2 separate regions of the Homo sapiens genome follow, and region 2 is linked to region 1. Evidence: fine-mapped expression QTL. Tissue or cell type: tibial nerve. Region 1 holds a variant in brackets; the other region holds the start of a gene. All regions are shown on one strand. Distances are between the middles of the regions.

Evidence for each region. PIP is the estimated chance that this variant, and not a neighbour inherited with it, causes the effect.
Region 2: INPP5A starts here. The variant in region 1 is fine-mapped to the expression of INPP5A in tibial nerve (GTEx, PIP above 0.99). The same link has a PIP of 0.9 or more in fibroblasts and nucleus accumbens.

What each region holds. Positions count from the first base shown.
Region 1 is chr10:132,480,562-132,483,237 of GRCh38, reverse strand. No RefSeq gene overlaps it. Among named protein-coding and RNA genes, the nearest start is that of LINC02870, 37 kb to the right of the region's middle. RefSeq lists an enhancer at 2,267-2,676. The variant T/A (reference allele first, on the strand shown) is at 992.
Region 2 is chr10:132,536,633-132,539,308 of GRCh38, reverse strand. It overlaps INPP5A (inositol polyphosphate-5-phosphatase A), which reads right to left and starts at 1,522. Exons shown (of 16, transcript NM_005539.5): 1 at 1,138-1,522. The coding sequence starts at 1,212. LOC107984282 (a long non-coding RNA gene) reads left to right here and starts at 2,386. Exons shown (of 4, transcript NR_158224.1): 1 at 2,386-2,583. RefSeq lists an enhancer at 572-621 and a silencer at 1,402-2,501.

The DNA of each region.
Region 1 (2,676 bases):
AAACCTCGGCTGGATCTCTGCCGTGCCGCTGAGGGGAGAGTATTCCCACCTTGGCTCTGGATTTTTTTTTTTTTTTTGACGGAGTCTCACTCTGTCACCCAGGCTAGAGGGCAGTGGTGCAATCTCGGCTCACTGCAAGCTCCACCTCCCGTGTTCACGCCATTCTCCTGCCTCAGCCTCCTGAGTAGCTGGGATTACAGGCGCCCGCCACCACACCTGGCTAATTTTTTGTATTTTTAGTAGAGACGGGGTTTCACCGTGTTAGCCAAGATGGTCTCCATCTCCTGACCTCGTGATCCGCCCACCCCGGCCTCCCAAAGTGCTGGGATTACAGACGTGAGCCACCGTGCCCAGCCTGGGCTCTGGATTTTTAAAGGGGATGCACCGGTGTTTCCCCATTTTTGGTCTGCTGTAGGTTTTTGGTAAGTTTCCCATTTCTAAGTTTGAAAAGTCTCTTCCTTTTTTCCTGAGTGTGTTTTGAGTTGTGTTGAGTGATTTTCGGCATCCACTGGGATGAGCCTGTCTTCCCCTTTAATCCGTTCATGCGGTGAATGAAAGTTATCGATCTTCTCGGTCTAAATCACTCACATTCCTGGGATAATCCCAGCAAATCCCAACACAGTCATGAGTGTCATCACCTTTTAAAAATAGACGCCGTGAGTTCAGTGTGCTAATGATTTGTTTAGGGTTTGTACGTCTTTGTTTGGGAGTGAGATTGTACTAAAACATGATTTTTCTTGGACTATTCTTGTCTGGTTTGTTTTAAAGATTGTAATGGCTTCACAATGATTCAGGGAGTGCTCCCTCCTTTCTACTCTCAGGAAGAGTTTGTAAAAGACTGGAACGTTCTGTTCCTTGAAAGTTTGGTAGAACACATCTGTGCAACCCTGGGCAGGGGAAAATAAGAACCCTGTGAGTTCTTAGTCGGAACAGATCCCTCTTACAAAACAGAGATGAATAGAAGAAAAACAAGCAGAGGCTTATTAACATG[T/A]GTGTTTCACGTATGTGTGGGAGATGCCTAGGGCATGAGTCACTCTCAACGAGGCGGCTTTGAATTCCAGCTTGTAGAGCATCTTTAACAAAGAGCGATAGATTTTCAGAGAAGTTCTGGGCAAAAAAGAAAGACTTGGAGTCTCTGTAGGCAGGAACTTGAGGAAAAGCGAATAAATGTCAGATAAAGGCTCCTTCATAAAGCTTGTTGGTGCAGATTATTCTGGAACTATCTTCAGGTGCAGGTGATGAGGGTCTGAAGCTGTCTTCAGTGGTTAACCTTTGTTCTCCCTAGTAGAGGGGGGCAGGATTCCTTCGTCTTTGTAAGCCCGTGTCCTGTGTCGAGGGGGGACCGGGAGCTCTACCTCCGTTGCTCCTCGCAGAGGCCCTCAGCCCCACAGGCCTGCTTTTCAGGAGGCGCGTTCTGGTCTCCCACACCTGTCAACCTGAGTTTTCTTGCAGGAGATTTTAAATCAATGGTTAAATGTCTTTAATGGTTGTAGAATTATTAGGTCATCTCTTCCTTCTTGAATCAATTTTTTGTCATGATCTTCTGCGAATGTATTCATTTTCCACAATTTTCTGGGAATGTATCCATTTAAAATCTTACCTGTTTTGGAAAAGATTTCAAACGGACTGGTTCCTGATATGTTTATCTTTAAACTTCTGCTTGTGTTTGATGATTCTCCTTTTCATTCCTAATACCGACTCTGTTCTCTCTCTCTCTGTTTTTGCCAGTGGCGTCTGTCACCTTCATCTTTCTAATAATCAGCCAACATTTGTCTTTGATCCACCCGATTTGCCTTTTATTTTCTATTTCCTGAGTTTCTGCTCATATTTGTATCTTTGTCCTGCTTTTATTGCTTTAGCCTCTTGTTCTTTTTGTCACTTACGTTGAAGGCTTGGCTCATTAATTTCCATTGTTTCCTTCTTTTAAATCTGTCTAATTTCTGGAGTGAGTTAGTTGCACTTTGCAATATTCCATATGTACGTGGAGAGTTTCATGTACTCATACATAATAGGCAGTGCACCCACTGTAATCTGGTTCTAAGCATTTCTCATTTCTATCATGTGTTATTCTTTAACTCACGGCTTTTAGAAGTGTATATTTTATTTTCCAAATAAATGGTAATTTTGGAAGGTTCTACTTCTTTTTTTTTTTTTTTTTTTTTTGAGATGGAGTCTGGCTCTGTCGCCCAGACTGGAGTGCAGTGGCGTGATCTCGGCTCACTGCAAGCTCCGCCTCCCAGGTTCAAGCAATTCTCCTGCCTCAGCCTCCCGAGTAGCTGGGACTACAGGTGCCCGCCAGCACACCTGGCTAATTTTTTTTTTTTTTTGTAATTTTAGTAGAGACGGGGTTTCACCGTGTAAGCCAGGATGGTCTCGATCTCCTGACATTGTGATCCACCCACCTTGGCCTCCCAAAGTGCTGGGATTACAGGCGTGAGCCACCGCGCCCAGCCCCTGAAAGCTTCTTCTTATCTCAAATTATTAAGATCAGTTGTAAGATCTCATGTTGACTGTTAGCTCGTTGCATCCTGGTCAGGAAACATTGTTGCTACAGCATGAACTGACTGAAGTCAGCTCACTCACTTCCTGTGGGATGTGCAGCTACTTTTCCCAAGTGCTGCATGTACTTTGAGAACAGGAAGGCCCCTTGGACTGCCAGGGTGCCAAGCCTGGGAG
Region 2 (2,676 bases), 56 kb before region 1:
ATACTAAGTGGCAGGGTTAAATGGGGGCACCCTACCCTCTGGCCCTGCAGGGACAGACAGACAGTGAGGCCGGCACCCAGGCATCCAGGAGCTGGGGCTGACAGCCAGAGTGGAGGGCCTAGGCTCAGAGGACAGGGGCCAGGGGTGGGAGTCAAGGGTTAGGGTTTGGGAATTCTGCAGGCTCAAGGCCCAGGCTTTAAGACCAGGATTCAGGATTCAGGATTCAGGGGCAGGAGCTTGTTGGAGGAAGGGGCCAAGGATGGGATCTAGGAACCAGAGTTAGGGGCAGGGTCCAGAATTGGGTTTGGGGCCTGATTCTGGAACCAGGGTTCCAGGTTCAGGGGTCAAGGACAAGTGTTCAGGGCCATAAGCTGGGGCCTGAGGTTGAAATTCAGGGTTCAGAGTCAGGCTAGATTGGCTTTAGAGGCAAAGGGCCACAGTATGAAGGCTGGGATTCTAGGGCTAGAATTCAGTGATTGGGGAACAGGGACAGGAGGTTGGGGCCACAGCCCTGTGTCAGAAGTTCCTGGGTTAGGGTTTGTGGTTATGTTTCAGGGTTTGGGGTCCAGGGCTCAGGGACCAGAGACAGACGTTTGAGAGCAGGTTCTGTAACCAGAGTTCTGCAGTCAGGATTTGTGGTTCCAGTGACCATGGACCTGGGGTTCAGGGCCAGGGTTGGGGATGGGCATTCCAGGGCCAGGGTTCTGAGGATTCGGAAATCAGGGCTGGGGCTGGGTTTGGTGCGCACAGACCCGGTTTCTGGGGTTTGGGTTCCAGGAACTGTTAACAGGGGTTCTGACAGGGTTTTAATATTGGAGTTTCGAGGTCAGGATTTGCAGACAGGAGTTCAGAGGCAGGGTCCCAGGGTCAACGGTCAGCTGCTGGAGTCTGGAGGATGGGGTTCGGGGATTCAGGGCCCAGGTCTTCAGGTCTCGGGCTTGGGGATCAAGACAGGGGTCTGGGCTCCCAGACTTGGGAATCAGGACAGGAGTCTGGGGTCCCGGGTACAGGGATCAGAGTCTGGGGCCTCTGGGTCTGGAGGTTCACGGTCCAGGGTCCAAGGCTTGCAGTTCGGGACCCCGGGGTCAGGGTCGGGGGTTCCGGGCTTGGGGCCTGCCGCCGGCACGGGGGACTTACGTCGTCGAAGAGCGAGCCCACGTTGGCCGTGACCAGCAGCACCGCGGTGCCCGGGGCGGCCGCCTTCCCCGCCATGGTGCCCGGGCGGCGCGGGCGCTGGGCTGGGCGGCGGCGGCGGCGGCCGCTTCCTCCGGGACCGGCCGGCCGGGGTCTTCGCGGGGCCGCGGGGCGTCAGCTGCGCCGGGGGGCGGCCCCGGGGCGCATCGCGGGCTCGGCGGGTCGGCCGGGCCTGGCCGGGGCTCCGGCCTCGCGCTCGCTCGCTCGCTCGCTGCTCCGCGGCCCCGCGCCCGTCGCTCGCCGCCGCGCCTCACAGCGGCCCGCGCGCAGCCATTAGATCCGCTGGGAAAGTTCCCGCAGCCGCCGCCGACTCAGGCTGAGGGCAAGTCCCGCCCCGCGGAGCCGAGCCCGGGGCGGGGCCTGGGCGGGGCGGAGCCTGACTCGGGGTGGGGCCTGTGCGGGGTGGAGCCGGGCCTGGGGCGGAGCCTTGCTGGGGGCGGAGCCTTGAGGTGCGGAGCCTGAGTTGGGCCTAGATCTGAACAGAGTGGGGCGGGGCCTGCGGGGGGCGTGGCTTGTGCGGGACTTGGTGTCCTTGTGGAGGCGGGGCCTGCCCCGGGGCGGGGCCTCCTTTCGGGGCGGGGCCTACGCGGGGCGCTCTTGCGACCGGCGGCCTAGTACTGGTCGCTCCCGGAGGGCGCTCCTGTCAGTCAGGCCCGCAAGAACGCCGCGCCCCCGCCCCGCCCCCCGCGCCGCGGCTGCGCACAGACTCCGCCCTTCGCACTTCTATGACGTCACGGCCCTGCTCCGGCGGCGCCTCTTAAAGGGGCCCTGGGTTCCGGGCGCCGGCGGCGGGTGCGCTCTCTTGCGGCTCTGAGGGGATGTTCCAGCCCCCGCGCGGCCGCAGTCGTCCAGCCGCGTGCCGGGCGTGCGGGGGAGGGGAGCCCACCGGGGCGGCGGCAGTCGCGCCTGCAGGGGCCGGGCCACGCGCGCCCGGCTCTCCGCGCAGACGGAGCGTGGACCGTGCAGCTTCCCGGCGCGTCCACCCGGCTCCCTGGCCGCGACCTCACTCACGAGGAGCGGCTGCGGCCCAGAGAAGACGGAGGGGAGGCGGCGTGAGGCCAGGCGCATCCTGACGTCGCGGAGGGCTCCGGCCCGGGCCAGGCTGGGTCTCAGCGCGGGGCGTGCAGGGAACCCTCGCAGGGACGAAGGGGGCTCCAGGGGAGGGGGCTGGTGCGGGCCCAGGAGCGCAGAGCACGGAGGAGCAGCCGGCTCGGCGCGGGCCCCGGGGCAGCGATGCTGATCCTGGCCGCCGGAGGGGCCAGAGCATGGGCTGGACCCTGGGTCTGAGGCCGCGGGGACACAGCCGCCGTGAACCGGGACATGCCTGTAGATGGAGGAGGAGAACCACATTTGTCATCTTAAAGCTTCCAGTAGCTACATTTTTTAAAGGTAACAAGTAATAGCCAAAGTTAACAATACGTTTTACTTAACCCAATAGATAGATACATCATTCAACATGTAACCAGAATTTAACAACCTCAG